Regions from separate parts of the Homo sapiens genome. Here region 2 is linked to region 1. A link means that fine-mapping ties the variant in region 1 to the expression of a gene that starts in the linked region. Tissue or cell type: whole blood. Region 1 holds a variant in brackets; the other region holds the start of a gene. All regions are shown on one strand. Distances are between the middles of the regions.

What was found. PIP is the estimated chance that this variant, and not a neighbour inherited with it, causes the effect.
Region 2: STIM2 starts here. The variant in region 1 is fine-mapped to the expression of STIM2 in whole blood (INTERVAL, PIP 0.97).

Annotation. Positions count from the first base shown.
Region 1 is chr4:26,955,576-26,963,575 of GRCh38, reverse strand. It overlaps STIM2 (stromal interaction molecule 2), which reads right to left. Exons shown (of 12, transcript NM_020860.4): 3 at 5,850-5,964. Among named protein-coding and RNA genes, the nearest start is that of STIM2, 99 kb to the right of the region's middle. The variant AG/G (reference allele first, on the strand shown) is at 4,893.
Region 2 is chr4:26,854,879-26,864,882 of GRCh38, reverse strand. It overlaps STIM2 (stromal interaction molecule 2), which reads right to left and starts at 4,042. Exons shown (of 12, transcript NM_020860.4): 1 at 3,514-4,042. The coding sequence starts at 3,664. STIM2-AS1 (STIM2 antisense RNA 1) reads left to right here and starts at 4,284. Exons shown (of 2, transcript NR_134674.1): 1 at 4,284-4,373; 2 at 4,855-5,259. It also overlaps a transcript of TBC1D19 not described here. RefSeq lists silencers at 3,346-3,915, 3,926-4,295, 7,086-7,135, 7,156-7,445 and enhancers at 4,386-4,485, 7,566-7,665.

The sequences.
Region 1 (8,000 bases):
GTTGTCTCTCATACTTCCTTATTTTCTACTAATGAGTGTGATGCATATTGTAAATATACAAATAAATATTTTGTTGATGGATGCCACAAAGATAACACTACCTTATTAGATCTGCAAGGCTTACGTTTTAAGTTCCTCTTCTGATAATGCTAAACAATACACACTTTTCTATTTACAGTTTTTTTATTCTAGTCTCATTGCAACCAACATCATACACTTTAAAGAGCTGGTGGATTTTATCAACATTTAGAAATCCCTTTATACTTTCATACCCAGAAGAAAAATCTTATGGATATAAAGGTTCTAGATATTTTTAAAATATTTATAACTTCCCTTACTTTTAGGAATTTTGTATCAATGGCCAGAAATTTTTTTCTTTATATTTCCTTTTATAAAATACTTATATTTTCGCTGTCCTAAACAAAAAGAAAATACTCTTGGTCATTTAGTCTCTGGCTAGCCTTTAGGTACACTTGAAAATAACCATTATTAAGTGCCTGTATCTTTCTTCTCTCAGACTATTTCAGTTGCTTTAAATTTTTAACCCTTAAATAAATAAACATTATCTTAAATTTCCAAATGTCTATTCAATTTGTAAAGCCCAAAATTAAACAGTGACCTTAGGTAGGTTAAGACTTGTGCTGAACAGGATGGAAAGATTACCTCATGGTTGTCACATGTTATAATAACTAACCCAGTGAGTTTTCATTTTAAAAACAGTGTCTTACTTAATCAGTTTTTTATCTACTATAGTCTCTAAATCTTGTATATAACAAATATTTTCTATGTACAATTTCCTGCATTAGGTATCTGGCTACTATTTAAATACATTCAGTAATTCTCACAATGTATCCAGTTTATCAAAATCTATCTGAAATCTAACACTAGTTTTTAAATGGCTTTCATTTGCATTAGACAGCTGCCATGTGCAACTTGACCAAGCATTCTCTCTACACACAGACACAGACACACATACACACACACACACACACACACACACACACACACACACACACTGCATTAAAGTCATTGCTGAAATTCTATTTGAGGTCAGGATCAACTTCTGCATAAAACAATTTTACTTTCCCACAGTTGACAACATTCCAGAAAGATCTTGGGTACATTTCACTGTCCAGAGTTTGCACACAATGCTGGTAAATATATAGCTTAGTCTGTTCATTTTATCAATAAATATTGTGAGACTAAGTCAAAAACAGTACAAAACTTTGAATATGGCCGAACTTTTTAGTTTATTTCGCATTATTACTGAATGAGAGAATCAACCTTTACTAAGCGCCTAACAGGTGTTGCCATAAATTATGTCAAGTACTTTCACTACATTACTGATTTATGTCACACAAGAATTACATTTTATAAGTGAATTTTCAAAATCTGTCCAATGCCTCACTATTCATAAATAGAAGAGCCAGAATTTAAAGCTGTATAGTTTGAAAGCCTACATACTTTCTATAGCATGCCGCCTCCACTTTCACTTCTAGCAAATTTTCAGGTAACTAAAGAAGGAGGCTGGGTGTGGTGACTCCCACCTGTAATCCTAGCACTTTAGGAAGCCAAGACAGGAGGACTGCTTGAGGCCAGGAGCTGGAGACAAGACTTGGCAACATAGTAAGATCCCGTCCCAACAAAAAATAAAAAATAAGCCAGTCGTGGTGGTATACGCCCGTAGCCTCAACTACTCTAGTGGCTCACTTGAGCCCAGGAATTTGAGGCTGCAGTGAGGTATGATCACACCACTGCACTCCGGCCTGGGTCACAGAGCAAAACCTTGTCTATTTCAAGAAAAAAAAAAGATGCCATGGGGGAGCTACCATTTATGTTCTACTTCTTGTCTCCTTCTAGAACTCCTGGGTCAACCCGAACACCACCTTCTGTGTATAATAGTGAGCTAATCACTCCCTCCAGTGAGCTACCTCCATACCCTAAACTTACTGCTATTATTGTACATATCACCTTATAGTGTAATTATTTGTTTTCTTTGTCTTTCCTACCCAGCAATTTGCTCTGTATACACCAGATTCATGTTTAACTCATCATTAATCCCCAGGATCCAATGCAGTGCTTGTTTACCACCTAATAGATACAGTCTATTTTGCTGCACGTGCTGCTGTAACATGAATTACTTTATGTGCCACTAGTAATTAGGGGTCACATCAACGCAAAAGTCACATCATTTCACATGTGACTTTTCCAAACATGGTATCATTTCACATTGCCAAGTAATTATCAAATGGATGCAAGGTGTACTAACTGCCAATACAGCAAGCTACAAACAGGAGCTTCTACTTACCCTCCTTCTTTATCTTTGCTCAATTTGGCCAGAGCCTCTGTCTTGGAAATGCTTGTTGCTCGGTTCTCATCTTCATGCACTTTGCCCTTGTCTTCATTTTTTAGCAACCTCAACTCTACTAGAACCCCCCATCCATCCTTCTATAAAGTTATCTTCATTATTTTTTAATGTAAATTCCTATATCTACTATATAGTATGTATTGATTAGGAATTTGAAATTCTTTTTAGCGGTACAAGTATTTTTTTTTTTTTTGAGACGGAGTGCAGTAGCGCACTCCCAGGTTCAAGTGATTCTGCTGCCTAAGCCTCCCTAGTAGCTGGGATGACGGGAGCGCACCAACAAGCCTAGTTAATTTTTGTATTTTTAGTAGAGACAGGGTTTTGCCATGTTGGCCAGGCTGGTCTTGAACTCCTGACCTCAGGTGCTCTGCTCGCCTAGGCCTCCCAGAGTGCTGGATTACAGGCATGAGCCACTGCGCCTGGCCTGTACTAGTATTTTTATTAATACTGTTAATGCCATGGCTAATAAGTTGTACAGGTTTTGAGTAATCTCCTTCAGTCCCATTTTTCCCATAAACTGTCATTTTTAAGTCCAAAATTTTAAAAAACGTTAAGTTTTTAAGAAATGCACATAATGTCTAATAACAGAAATGCCTGTACTCAAAACATTTGACCAACTAAATTACTAAGCATCCAATACTTATCAGGCATTACTCTTTCATTCATTCAACAATTATTTACTGAATATCAAAGTGAATATTTACTACTGAATACAAAGTGAATGCACTGTGCTAGGCATGGGAGACACAACAATGATAAGCAAAGAATGAATGCATATATTTGCATGTGTATGTATGTGTGTGTGTGTTTTATATATACATATATATACATACACACATACACACAAACATACACACTTTCTGTATAAATACATATATACACACATACACACACTTTTGTATATATTCAAGTAAACAACCTTGAATTACATGTTATTGTTAGGGGTACATTCTAATCTCTACTTCAGCAGTTTTCAAACTTTTTCAGAAGAACTACTTTTCGTTTCTCCAGAGAAATTTTCAACAGAAACAAAATATAACAGATAAAAGCAGAGCCCGGCACACTCAACATGCCCTGTCCCTGGGACTCCTCCTGGAGCCTGAATGTTTTAAAAACCAGTGCTCTGGCAACAATACCCCACCCTTACATGACCCCTTTAATAAACAGAGTCTGACATGGGTTGAGAAAAATCAATTAGGTCATTATAAAGCTTCTAGTGAAAGTTTATTATCACTTGACTCCTCTCTCTTTCATCCCATACAGCTGCATTACTAGGAATACTGAGACTACTTCTGCCAGACTCTGTAAGGTTATATAGCCAACTGGGGCTTAGAGAAAAGGAAGCAGAGAGGAGATAACTTAGGCCAACTGTTTGAACTGAGGAAATCCCTCATTATCATAATGGTTAGATCTCAGATTAAGGTGAAAGCCTAGGGAAAAAGAGGTTTAAGACGTCATTCAACTTGAAAAGGCCTTAGCTTAAAAAAAAAAAAAATCAAGTAAACAAACATTCTCATAGATCACAAAAGATCTCACCAAAGTCACTAGGGTGGGAAAACAAAAAGGAGTTTAAGAATAGAGTCCTCTTTATTTAGGATACATTAATAAACAAAACATACAACATTCCCCTGCTCTATAACACTTACATTCTTGGGGGTGAGGCAAAGGGAGATATATATAATGAGCAAGTCAATTATATAGTATCTTAGAAGGTGATACACGATGGGGAAAAGGAAAGTGTGAAGCTGAGTAAGAAAGATCAAGAGTACCAGAAAAAAAAATGAGTAAAAGGGGAGGTTAGCAATGTTAAACAGGGTGGCCAGAGTGGTTTCACTGAGACCATAACCCTTGATAAAGACTTTAACAAAGGAGGTGATGGAGTTAGCCATGAGGATGTGTGCATTCCTGCATTTGTTGAATAGCCACAGGTCCAGAATGAATGGAGCACAGTGAGCGAGAGAGATGCATGGAATAGAAGAGGTAAGAGATGAGAGAGAGGTGGAAACAGAAGGCAGAACATGTAGAGGCTTACGGGTCTTTGTAAAGATTTGGACTATTACTCTGAGTCACTACAGAGTAATGAGCAGATCTAATTTACATTTTAGAGTACTCTGCTAGGTGAAGAAGAGACTACAGCAGAGCACAAACACAGGGAGATGAATTAGGCTGTCACAATTATCCAGGCAAGAGACGATGGTGGCTGAACAAAGGTAGTACAAGACCTAAGTGGTCAAATATTTTTTTCTTCATTCAAACACAGTCAAGTGGGTTCCAATCAATGTATTACATATTTTAATCCTTAAAAAAATACTAATAGCAATAGACTCTGTAATGGATCTCCACCTCCCTTCTTAGTATCTATGGATTGCTGAGCTATGTCGTGTCAATAAAATAAGTTTGTTGCTGAGTTCCCCACCATTTTCACTTTTCCTCATGAAACTGATATTTGTTTATTTCTATTCCTATCCGAGCTCATGTTATTTTAAAATGGTGTAGGGAAGAGAAATGGAGAGGTTTTTTTAAA[AG/G]TCTATATATTTTTCTTTTAAGTGCATAATTGTTTTCTTCTTTCTTCCCCAACCCAAGTGTATTTCAACAGAAACACATGTAAGCAAGCTATCTACCATCTTCTACACTAAGAAAAATACTGAGCATTGGTGGGACAGTTTTATTTATTTTCCCACTTCTAAATGTTATCATAATGACTCAAGTAAACTTTATTATTTCTTTACACTCTTAATTGGTAATCTGTCCCTTTAATTTCGTTTAATTTTTCAGAGAAAAATATATGCTTACAATATAATTGCTGACTTTTATGAAAGAACAGAAGCATTAGAAAGAAGGAATTTTAGTTGAGTTACTGAAAACAAAATGTAAGTTTAGGGGACTTGTAAAATTTTTTTAATTTTAGTAACTTCCTAGTATATGGAACCAAGTTGAGATTTTTAGATCACAGACTTTTCCTGTACTAAACAATTACTGTCCATAATACACCTTGAGAACTTAACAGTAGAAAGGGAATAAAATACCAATTATCCAATTTTATCATACACCTATTACGAGACATCATAAAGGATTTACTTAAGAAAAAGCTTAACAGTAATAGCCTCCTAAAAACATTAGGAACTATTCTCCACAACTAAAAGGAAAACTTTGTGTTTCCATATGTTTATTTGCTAAACCTTTTATAATAATGTCACGTAATAGCTGAAATAATGCTTTACAACTTTAGGCTCTCAGACATGCATTATCTTATTTATTCTACTATAATTATATGAGAACAGCCTGATGCTTAATGACTCTCAGAAAGATAAAAATCATCTATCAAAAACAAGAAGGGAAAATTATTTACTAAAATATAAATATCCTCACAGAAATGTTATTTTGATTTTTTTGGTAAAAGCATACTATAAGTGAGTTGAGAACAACTAAGCAGGCTAGATGTGCAGAAGGGGAGGGGGCCAGATCACAAAGGCAGTCTTACCTTCTGATGTTTTCCATCGTTTCCATAAATCCTCAATCGTTATATGTTTATCTTCTCTGTGCAGATGGCTGTGTTTATTAGTAGCATCTTTATATTTCATATCTTCTCTGATGAACTATAGAAGAGAAAACATTAAGTTAAATATAAATTCATTACCTTAGTCTTGACAACTAGAGAAAAAGATGAAATCTGATATCCAGTGGGTGACTATTTTCAAACAGTAACTGGCAAATTTTTGGTATTGTAGTCACATTATTCTTACATGTTTGTAAAATGTATTTAATGAAATGTCTTCTGCTACTAATCGTAACGCCACCACCACCAGCAACAGCAGTAGAAGTACTTAGTCAATGTTTATTATTTACCGGGTATTATTCTAAGTTATATAACAAATAGGTGTATACAGTCACCCCCTCCTTATCTGTGGGTTCAGTATTCGTGGGATTGAAAATATTTGGGGGAAAATGGATGGCTGTGTCTGTACTGAACAGGTACAGAGTTTTAAAAATCATTATTCCCTAAACAATATATTACAACAACTATTTACATAGCATTTACACTGTATTAAGTACTGTAAGTAATCTAGAAACAATTTATATGGGAGGATGTCTGTAGGTTATATCCAAATGCTATATCATTTTTATATAAGGGATTTGAGTATCCATGAATTTTGGTATCCGCAGGGGAAGAGGGAGTCCTGAAACTAATCCCCCACAGACACCAAGGGACCACTGTATATCTGTCCATACAGAGAAAGTCATTTACCTTTACGACAGTCCTATAAGGAAAGCATTATTTATCTTCATTCAATAGATGAGAAACCAAGGCCCAAAGAGGCTAAGTAATTTGCCCAAGGTTGAAAAAATAATGAATATCGAGCTGAAATTCCAACGCAAGCCATTTGGTTATATTCAACAGCATAATATACTGCCTCAATATCACTGCATTCATTTTTACCAAATACTTGGTGACAGCGATGTTTCAAAACATAATAAATAATAATCTTCTCAATTACTGCATCATATTTCTATGTTCTTCTGCCTTTTTTAAGCTACTACTTTTAATTCAAAGACATTTGATTATGGTGTTTAGAGCTAAAGTATACTTTACAAAACTGAAGTATACCTTCTATTAATCTTACTTTGAAATATAGAGAGAGATAGGCTGAGGCAGGAGAATTGCTTGAGCCCAGGAGTTTGAGGCTGCAGTGAGCTATGATTGCACCACTGCACTCCAACCTGGGCAACAAGGCAAGAACCTGTCTCTTAAAAAAAAAAAAAAAAGGCATTGAAATCATCTTTGCTAAAAACTAACCTGTTCTATATTACTTTTTAAACCATTTCCCATTGTCTAACAATAAAAAGCAAACTCCATTTTATGGCTTAATACCACTTATTAATCTTATCTCTGAGAATCTTTTAGGCCTTATCTCTTGATACTTTGCTCATATATGTACCCATTACTCTAATTATGTGAAACTAATAGTTTTTAAATTGTTTATGCTTTTTCTACCTCAATATTTTTTATTTTTCTTGTCTCGTTATTTTATATGGTATCTTTTTTTTCTATTGTTCCAAAACTATAAGATCACATAAAAGATTTCAGAAGTCCACAATGCAGAAACTGAAAATTCCCCCACAGCTACAAATGCCAGAGGCATATTTTTCTGACTTTTACACTGGCAATGAACATCACCTTCAGACAAAACACCAAATTCTGCCTGAGTAGAGTTGCTGTCTACTGAAACTAAAAAAGAAAATTTTAACAATTGTATAATATTGAGCAAATCATTTAACTTTTCTGAGGCTCAACAACCTTGGGAGCAAAATAAAGAAACAATGTTCTAGGATCAACAACACTGTTGAACATGTGGTCATTCAGCAGAGTAGTGTCAGCATTATGGCAATTAGAAAACACTTCCACAGCAACTGGGCCGAGCATATGATAAATATGCTCACCTTGTCCACCCTGTACATATATACTGGAAATTAAACATCTGGTCTTTCGTCATCAAAAGTTTGAAAAGTACTAAACTAAAAAAATCTATGTAATCTGTTGTCTGCTCTAAATAGTGCCTTACTCCTTTTTACTAAATGCTGCCTTAAGTTATATTTAAGGGGGCCTGCCTGAATGCTACAAGTCCTCCTGTCA
Region 2 (10,004 bases), 100 kb after region 1:
GACAATCATGCTAATTTGAGGTATTTCCATCTAAATTAATGAAAGCCCCACAACACAGATGTGTGTAACAGTACTGGGTAAAGTGGCCATTCTAAATGCTATTATATGTGGTATTATATGTTGAACTAAGAATATATTAAATCTTAATTGAGATTTTAATACTTCCAAGAAACATGTTTTTATATATGTTATTTCTAATAACATGCCAAATCAGTGAAATGGTATTACAGTTAAGATAAAACCTTCACATAGGCACTAAAGAATGTTACTTTAATTCATTCTTTAAAAGGATAGAGGCAAATATTTTCAGTTAAAATTTGTTCCCAAAAATTCTGAAACAATTCCGTAAGAAATAATGTAATGTTTCAATTATTCGGCATTTTTTTGTTTGTTTGTTTCCCTTTCATAAGCTATTTCTCAGGGACCCTATCTGGATGAGATCGGTCACTCCCTACCAGGATCAATTCATCAACTCTAAATCTGTTAGACAAAGAAGGAAAAAAAAAACTATTGTTTTGAGTTATTAAAGCACTGCTTTAGAATACAATCACCAAGCTCTCAGTCACCTATCCCTAACTTGCTTTAAATTTCAATCACTTTCAAAGTAAGTGCCCTAAATATATAAGCGCTGTATATGTAATTTAAAACCCTTACTATATAATGTTATGAATATTGGTTCTGTCTCACCAAAAACATTTGCACACTGAATTCTGAAAAGGTAATATTTAAAAAGGAAAAGAAAATATAAACCTGTATTCATTATGACAATGGGTCTGTTTATTTGGATGATTTGTATAGTTTTGAGCAATAACAGTTTATTTGAGCAAATAAACACAGGATAATTTAAAGGCAATTTACTCTTAAAGTACACTAAATCCCTAAAGTAAAACACTTGAGAGGCAAGCTGCAGTGAAAAAGAATGTTTTATACATTTTATTAGTCAAAGGCTAACTCTTAGGGAGCTTCTAAAGGTAAGTATTAAAAATGCCAATCTCGAGAAGAAAACAGAAAAGTGATTTTGGCTGTCATTTTGCAGAGCTATTGAGAATACTCACAGCTAAATCACAACTTTAATCAGGAGACAAAGAGACCAATTCTTCTCTCAGAATGCTTTCAAAAATTTTCAATTTTCAAAATTCACGTGACGTTTAGTTCTCTTATTACTGATGCTCTACTCCATCTCTATCCATTAACGCTGCCTACAATATGATACCACACCACAGTATTTTGTAAATTCAGTCTACGGTTTTACTTCCTGAAGTGTACACTAATGCTAATAAATTAGGTTCTAGGCTTTGCATAACATTTACAAATAGAACCATAAAAGAAAGCACTATTCATACACTCTTAAGAATGGGAAAGAGCCCTATAGAGGCCATATAGTTCAAAGAAATTTTCAATATTTTCTAACTTCATCATAGATTTTCAGTTTACCTTTACCAAGATATGGGTGCTATTGACTGTATTTACATAAACTTATTAAAATAACAATTTAATTTGTATATTGTGTAGTTTTATGATTTAAACTTTAAGTGGAAACGTTTAACTTGTTAAAAATCAATATTCTGACAAAAGGAAAGTAAAAGAACGTTAGAAATAATTCCAGGGTATTCTTCTAGCAAACTTATTTTAAAGCCCTATGGCACAAACTCATTTTGTGTGATACATCGGATTTTTTTCCAATAAGAATCACCTTTTTCCCCCATGCCTTAAATAAGTATAGAGAAATTTAAGTCTTAAAAGGGATTGTAAATGGCTTATTAAAATTCCATCTGACCAATTTTCTTGATGTGATCTACACAGTATAAAATATACTTATTAGCAGTCAATAAATACTAAATTTTCTGAATTGCTTGCCTTTTTACCAATTACTTTTTCACAGAGCATTAGCCAATTATGTATTAACCACATTTTTCTGCTCGAGAAACCTAGAACCACTTATACCTTCTAGAAGCCTAAATATTCCTGCTCCTTCCCTTCCTGCATGAGGCATTAAATCTTCAAATTATAGTCTTATTTATCAACTTTCCTAATAATCACTATTCTTCACTATACTGTTACTTGCCACATTTTTATTTGGAGAATAAATACTATTCAAGCATAAAGCTGTCTGACCTATCTTCTCACTCAAACTGTACTATGCTCCTAATACTGATTATTCTATAATCACTTTATCCCAGTTACCCAATTGGTAGGTTTGATGTATCAAGTTCCATTTAATAGGGCTTGATATGCTTCAGGGTAAAGTTAAACATGCTGACCATTATGTTCTATACTCTACATCCTCCAAAGCTTTTAAAGTTTACCAACATCCTTCTTCTCTCTAGAATAGTAAATATCCTATCATAGAAATCAGAGAAACTGCTTGGCTTTAAAGAATACAGTTCCTGAGCACTTGTCAGAGAAGCTGTTAGTAACTTCCAGACGCCCGCAGGACTATCATTTTGGTTAAATTAATCACGGGTCATCTTCTGCCACTTTAAACTTTTTAGTCTTACAATTATTGTAGGAAATCTACAGATCTACTTTAAAAATAAGTGAAATACTAAAAAAAAAAAAAAAAACCATTATTTTAGCTCCATTACTTTTCCCAAAGAAATCATTTCAGGGTCCTTATATAATAACTTTTACTTAAACCACAACTGATCAGTTGTACATAACACCGGAAGGCTTTAAAAAGGATACAATTCTGCACTTAACCTTACAAAACACGTTTCCAAGTTTTCAATTATGAGATCGTTCTATATATTAAAAAAAAGGTGCTAGTGCAGTCTATCAGAACTGTGCTGCCAGCTGCAAGCCCCGAGTATGCTGCACTTTGCAAATTTTAGGTATAATTTCTGGTTACCTGCTGAGGTTTCTACACCCTTTGTCACCCAGTGATGCTCCCACCACCAAACACTTTCCATCACCACTTAAAACGGCCTCCTTCCACCCCGCAAAAAATGCACTGTAAACTTAGGCATTTCTGCATACTAACACGGAACCACTAATATCACTAGGTATTATGGCTCTCAAAGAATCCCCTTTAGCAGGCTCCCCTGGGACGCTGTGCTCAAGCGGAGCTTTGAACCGGTGAGACTCGCTGCCAGCTGCCTTTGCAAAAGCAGCACCAGAGGTAGACTCAATACCGCAATGCTGCTGCTGACTTTTTCTAGCAGCCTCAAAAAAAAAAAAAAAAAAAAAATCAGCCCAGTCCCCTGCAGACCCTGCTGGCACTTCTGCAGCACGAAAGAGAAACCACCGCATTGCTCAGCTTGGAAGATCGGAGAGCCCGACTGAAGGGAGGGGAATCAGTGCCGTCGAGAGGCTCGGCGAGGGCGGGGTGTCGGGGTGAAAAGGAAAGACGTCCGGAGTGCAGGGGACCGCGACGAAGCAGCAGGCAGGGCTCCGCATCGCGCCCTGGCCGGAGCCGCGGAATAGCGGACGTCCGGCGGAGATGCTGACCTCTGCACGGGTTGGGGGTCCCATCGCTGCCGGCCGAGCCCCGCCCGCCGCCCCCCGGCCCCTCACCTGTCATGAGCGCCGGGCTATCGCCGGCCGCCGCGGCGGGAGAGGAGGCGGCAGTTGCGGCAGAGCCAGTCGCCCGCCGCCCGCGGAGGTGCCGGGGCACAAGCTCGCATCCGTCCGCCGCTCCGGCTACCAGCAGCCCGAGCACCAGCAACGCAGCCCAGCGCCGCCGCCGCAGCAGCCAGCCCCACGCTGGGCCAGGAGTCGAGGCGGGATGAAGGCGCCGAGGAGAAGCCGGGTGAAAGCGCAGCGGCGCCCCGGCCGCCTGCAGCTCGCCGGCTCCGCGAGGCGCCACCACCGCCGCCGGCGACTCCTCCGGCCGCCCCCGCCGCCTCAGACACGGGCTCCCGCCGGGCGCCAGCCTGGTCCCATCGGCACCGGCGGCCTCCGGAGCTCTGATCCCGGCTGCGTTCATTGGTTCCGGTTATTTAAAAAAAAAAAAAAAAAAGGTGGGGGGTAGAAAGGTACGGCGTCTTCAGGCGGTGCACGACACCCGCGCTGCTGCTGCGGCGAGACCGGGATCCGCTGCTCTGGCGCCGCCAAACACCAACCCCAGCTCCCGCGCCGCCGCCGCCGCGGCGCATCCCCCCGCCCCCTCCGGCCCGCGCTGGTCGTAGTACCACGCTCCGCCGGGACGCCTCCCTCCCCTCGCACATTCGCTCGCATACCAATCCCCCGCCTCCCTCAGGCTCTCCACGGCGCAGGCGCGGCGCTGCTGTACTGCGCGTGCGCGGCATCCCAGCCCCGCCCCGGAGGCGTTCCTAGACGGACGGTAGTACCGTGGGGCGGCTGATAACGCTTTAGCGAGCCGCGAAGATAGGAGGCGGGGAAGAAGGGGGACGTGTACCTCTCCCTCATTCACGGTACCACCGCGAGGGGGAGTGGGGGGCTACAAGGGGACGGAGAGAAGAGTCCAGACGTCCCACATCCTGAGGGCGAGTTTCAGCCTCGTAGAGGGCAGCGAAAGTAATTGCATGGATCAGGAAAATCTTGCAATCGGAAAACAGCAGCGTCCCCGTAATTTCAATATAGGTGGGGCTTACAAGTGGCTGGCTGTTTAGACGCGGTTAGCATAGCTTAGCGTTTTATTTACTTGCCAAACATTTCACAAAGCGCGTGCTATGTGTGAGTGTACCAGGCATTGCTCTAACCGTTTTACACATTTACATGCTATAACTCCAAAATTATCGTTACCCCCTTTTACGAATGAAGAGACTAAGACCTAGAAATGTGAAGTAAGTTGTCCCCAATATCCCACAGCTAATTCATGGGAAATGAGCGAGATTTAGCAGCCACTGAAAAGGCCTATTTAAGAGAATTTACTTTAGCCTCTGACTCTCCTAGGTACATTTACCTGAACTCATCACCTTCCCACCCCCATCCCATCGACTCTGTGCTGTATCCTGAACCGGCTGACAGAACAATGATGTAGACTTGACTTGTTTTCGCCAACCTGGAATGAAGCAAAGCTCTTGTGCACCCAAGATCTGCTCTCTGTTGTAAATCCTGTTCAGACCTGGTCTAATTGGTTTGAATAAATAAAGAACCGGAATCTTTCTCATCCAAACTAGTTGCCAGCATATTTTTAAGGCCACCTCCCTTCAAATTTAAAAGGAAGTGTTGAATGTACTGTCACTATAAATTAAAAGCCCTGGAAATTCACACGCAAGGAGGCATTCTTTCTCCCAGGGGCACAAAATTGTTTAAAATTTGCAGATAGGGTTATTAAACACGAAGATCCTTTTGCTATTGGGTTTTGTTGGTTTCATTCTGCTTATTGGTTTGTTTGCTTGCTTTCTCAAGCCAAGAAGATACTCAAATTACATTCTCCTAAAGTATTTCTTAGGTAGCCTGGCCAAGATAACCACAAATATCGTTTATTGTGGAAGGGCAGATGCACACTTTAGAAAAGAATCAAGGATGTCTTTGAGGCTAAGTCAATCTATCAACAGTTATTTCTCAGCAGACTTCTTGTGGGCATAGTGTTCAGGTGGCAATTCTTTATAGGGCAACCGGGAGATTATATTTCCCCTGCTGAAAGGCACAGCGATGAAGTCACACCAGAGTGCTGAGTGCCCACCAGAGAAGATAATTCTGCTAGGGGACCAGAACAATATAAATAACAAGCTTGTTCCTGCTCTCCAGGAGGCATTTCATTTATTAAATGTTTACTGAGTACCTAGTATGTGCCAGGCAGAGTACTGAGTGGTGAGGGTTAGGCAAGAGAGACACTTGAAAAAGGCAATTAAGTCAGCAGTCAGGGCTATGAGATAAACAGCACAGTCCCATGACTAAGGCATCTTACAATCTTTTTAAGGAGATAAAATGTACACCCATTAAACAATTAGAGGCTAATACAAAGTAGTAATCAGTTGCTAAATGGTGTAGTGCAAACTGTTACAGTAGTAACAGTATAAAACCACGAACAAATTAACAAATCACAGGGGCCAGGATTCTTTAAACAAAGATGATTTAGTATTTTTTTTTCTTCTTTTAAAGATAGGGAGGGTATTGACATTGAGAGTGTATTGGACTGGAGTTTTAAGTGTTTATTCCTCTCACTACTGGAACCGGAAAGGAACTAGGGATCCGGCAAGCACTCAAAAGACCAAGGCCAGGAAGGCCAGGGGCCAGGAATAAACCCTCCACCGCAGATCATCTTTGCCACAGATATAGAACTTTCCAGCTGTTAAATGAATAGCCGGAATGAACCTTGCTGAACAGAGAGAGGTACGTGTCACTGTGCATCACAGCATAAACCTAAGAACAGAAAGGAGAAAATCCATTCCTTGGCAAGAAAAGCCCAACCCTAGAATTATATATGCTTCTATTTGCAAGCCAAACATAAACACAAGACTCCAAATGAGGCAATCGCTTACCTTTCTCCCCAGGTTTCCTTTCCCACCTCCACGCTTTTGTTTTCCCTTTCCCTTCCCTTGTTCTCACCACCCCAAAGCTTTCTCTCCTTCCCTGTCGCCAAATCCCATTCAAAAGCTACCCTGAGGCCCTTTTCCTTGGCACTTACCCGACTCCTACAGCCAGCCTATACCTCTCAATGTCCAAACCTCATCATATGCCTTTTTTTTTTTTCAGAACGTCTTCACTGTCCCATTTTCACCAAATCATGACTTCAAACACCTGATGGGCAGCATTGAGCTCTAGAATCAGGCAAACCTGAAAGAAATAGCAATTCCACCACTTTTCAGCTGTGTTACGTGCAGACAGGTTAATCTGTCCTCAGTTTCCCCACTTTTAAATTGGGGATCCAACCATGCCCGCCCCACAAGGTTGTTAGCGGCGGCGGGAGAATAAACAGGGAAAGCCCTTGCGCGGAGCCCGGCACACAGGTGCGTTGCCATCCCTTGGGGAGAACTGGCTCTGGGCGTGCATTCTAAGCGTGTTCTTGGCTTAGGATAAACGCATCGCACTTTGCCCATGTTGTTTGATTGCATTTTCTTGCAAATCCCAAACTACTGGGCGCGCCCTGCACAGAGGCACAGCAGGATCCGTGCACCGGCTCCTCCCCATCCCAGAGGCAAGCCTGCCCTTCCCAAATGTCGGGCTCCCTATCTCCCTCTTCTCCCCTCGCTCCCGCACAGCCCACAGCGCGCCGCCAGCTCGGACTCGGAGAACCGGTTCCCGACTGGCGGGCGCGGCAGGGCGCCTGCGCCACCGCAGCCCCGCGCATGCCCGCTGCCTCCTGCCGGCTTCCCCCAGGTGCGCGAGTTCTCAAGCTGCTGGGTTCCGGGACGCCGCGCGCCGCTGCCCGCCCGGCTTCCGGCTCCCACTCTGTGGGCGGGGCGCCCGGCAGCCGCGAGATGGCGTCACCGCGTGGGCGGGCGCGGCGGGCTGTCAGTGGGGAGGGTGGTGGACGTGGGGCGGTAGTAGGGGTGGAGGTATAGAAGTGGGGAATTCCGGCGCCTCGCCCTCCCACTGATCTTCTCCTTCCCGTCTTTGACTTCCCTGCGTGGCCCTGGAATGTCGGGACAGACCCAGCAGGGTGGTCCAGCCTGGTTCGCTTGCTCTTGATGGTGAAGCCCCTCAGAGAGCTGCCTTCGGTGGAAACGCTGTTAGGTATCGAGTTTTCCCGCTGACTCTCGACAAACGCTAACAAGGGACTCGAGGTGCTGAGAACTTTGGAAACACCTCTAAAGTGATATAGACAATGTGATGGCTCCATTCGATCAATGAAGCCCTAGCATAAAAATGGGGTCCTCAAATTGTTTAATAAAGCACTAGGAATAGAAGTGACACCGTGGAAGTAACTCATTAGCAAGACCCTTCCTCCCTAAACCCAATAAAACATGAGATAGTCCTCAAGTGGTGTAGTGAAGGTGGAAAATTTTATTGCTGCTTTCTCTGGGAGCAGAGGAAGGAAGTCTTTTTAAGTGTCTTGCATCCAGGATAGGGAGTTAAAAACTCTAGATTTAACTAACATAGTTTTTTAAAAGCCGCTCAACAGAAGCGAGTTAACTTTGCCCGCTAAAGCCCGGTGCAATCAGAGGGCGTGTGGGGTGAGTCGTTTATATTATTAAATAGGATGTGTTTGCTCTATACTGCTTAATTTGAGGTGTTACATGAATATTATTGATCACATGATAACTGACAGATGCTGAAGCAGCAGGAATGTTGACATTTTCCACAAAAAGAGGACTAGAATTGTGATGGAGCTAAAGTAAAGATCATAACAATTGAAAATGGTGAGAAAATGATGGCTATTATCAAAAAGACAAATAAGTGTTGATGAGGATGTGGAGAAAAGGAAACCCTGGTATACTGTTAGTGGAAATGTAAATTAGTATACCCATTTTGGAAAGTAGTATGGAGGTTCCTAAAAAACTAGGAATAGAATTATCATATGATCCAGCAATCCCACTTCTGAGTATATATCCAAAGGAATGGAAATCAGTATGTCAATGAGATATCTGCACTCTCATGTTCATTTCAGCATTATTTACAATAGCCAAGATATGGAAGCAAACTAAATGTCCATCAACAGATGAATGGATAAGGAAAATAGGGTATATATACACACAGTGGAATACTATAGAGCCTTAAAAAAGAAGGAAATTCTTCATTCACTGCAACATGGGTGGAACTGGAGGACATTAGGCTAAGTGAAATAAGCCAGGCGTAGAAAAACAAACATTGTATGACCCCACATATGTGGAATCTAAAAAAAAGTTCATCTCATAGAAACAGTATAAAGGTGATTACCAGAGGCTGGTAAGTGTGAATGGGGCGAGGGATGGGGAAAGGGAAGATGCTGACCAAAGGGTATAAGGTTACTGTTAGACTGGAGGAATATGTTTGAGTGATCTATTGTACTTCACAATAACCACAGTTAATGTCTATTTCAAAATTGCTAAAAAGATAGATTTTTAACATTGTCACTACAAAAAAGGTTAAGTCAGTGAGATAATAGATATGTTAGCTCAGTTGAATTGTTCTACAATGTACATATAGCTCAAAACATTGTACTCCATAAATATACACAATATTTGTCAATTAAAAATTAATTTTAAAAACATTCATAATGTCTGTGAATTATGAGGCAGGAAGCTGCCAAGGGGTTCCCTACAGCACTTGAAGAGATTATCTAAAAAGGAATTACCTACTTTCAATCTTAAAGTATACAAAACACCTACTTTAGAAAAAGATGCCACAGAAACATATATCAGCAAGGAGAAGAAAAGTGGGCCTGTTTAAAAGCTTCAAAGGGCTGCCCACCTCCCTCTTCTTTGTGGAAAATCCATCCAGGGACTGGAAATTTCAACTCCTTAAGTTTGAATGTATAAAAAAAATGGCCATAAGTACACCCAAGTACACCCATCTGAAACGAAAACCCTTCGTAAGGTGAGGAACTCCGGTATTTTTGTTCCAGTAAAACCAGGTCCTTATGCTAATACCTAGATAGAGGGTTGTTGTAAAGTAAAAATGATTGTAAAGCTGCCTGGTGCATAGTTAGCTATTATTATTTAAACCCTTAAGGTATGAAAAACAAGAGCTCGTTTTGAGTTGAATTGTGCAAAAAAGGAAAGTAGAAAAAAAGAATACACGAACAATCTACAAGAGCACATACAACAAAGGTACGTACACAGAAGTCTTTACAGGGCCATATGCCTAAAGTGACAGTCAAAAGTTCTCTAGAAAATAGGACCCGATGCAAAGGCCCATATAACAGTTCCTTAGAGAGTAGGATTTCCTTCAACAATTCCTTCAACCCCAGTGAAGCAGAAGTAAGGGGAAGGGAGACATGAGCCACGCACAGAAGGAGGCAGAAAAATATCCAGGTGATGCACCACTGAGCTGGCTGCTCAGTCTCTCACGATGCCTCCATAGTGGAGACCACTCTGTTTTGGAACAGTGCGAGAAGAAGGGAGAAAAATGGAACTTTTGGCTCCCATCAGTCAAAGGTTTCTGCAGGAGATGCAAACTCGCCCGCACTTTTCAGTCATGCCACCTGCCGCTCCAGGCAGCTGCCAGAGAAGCCA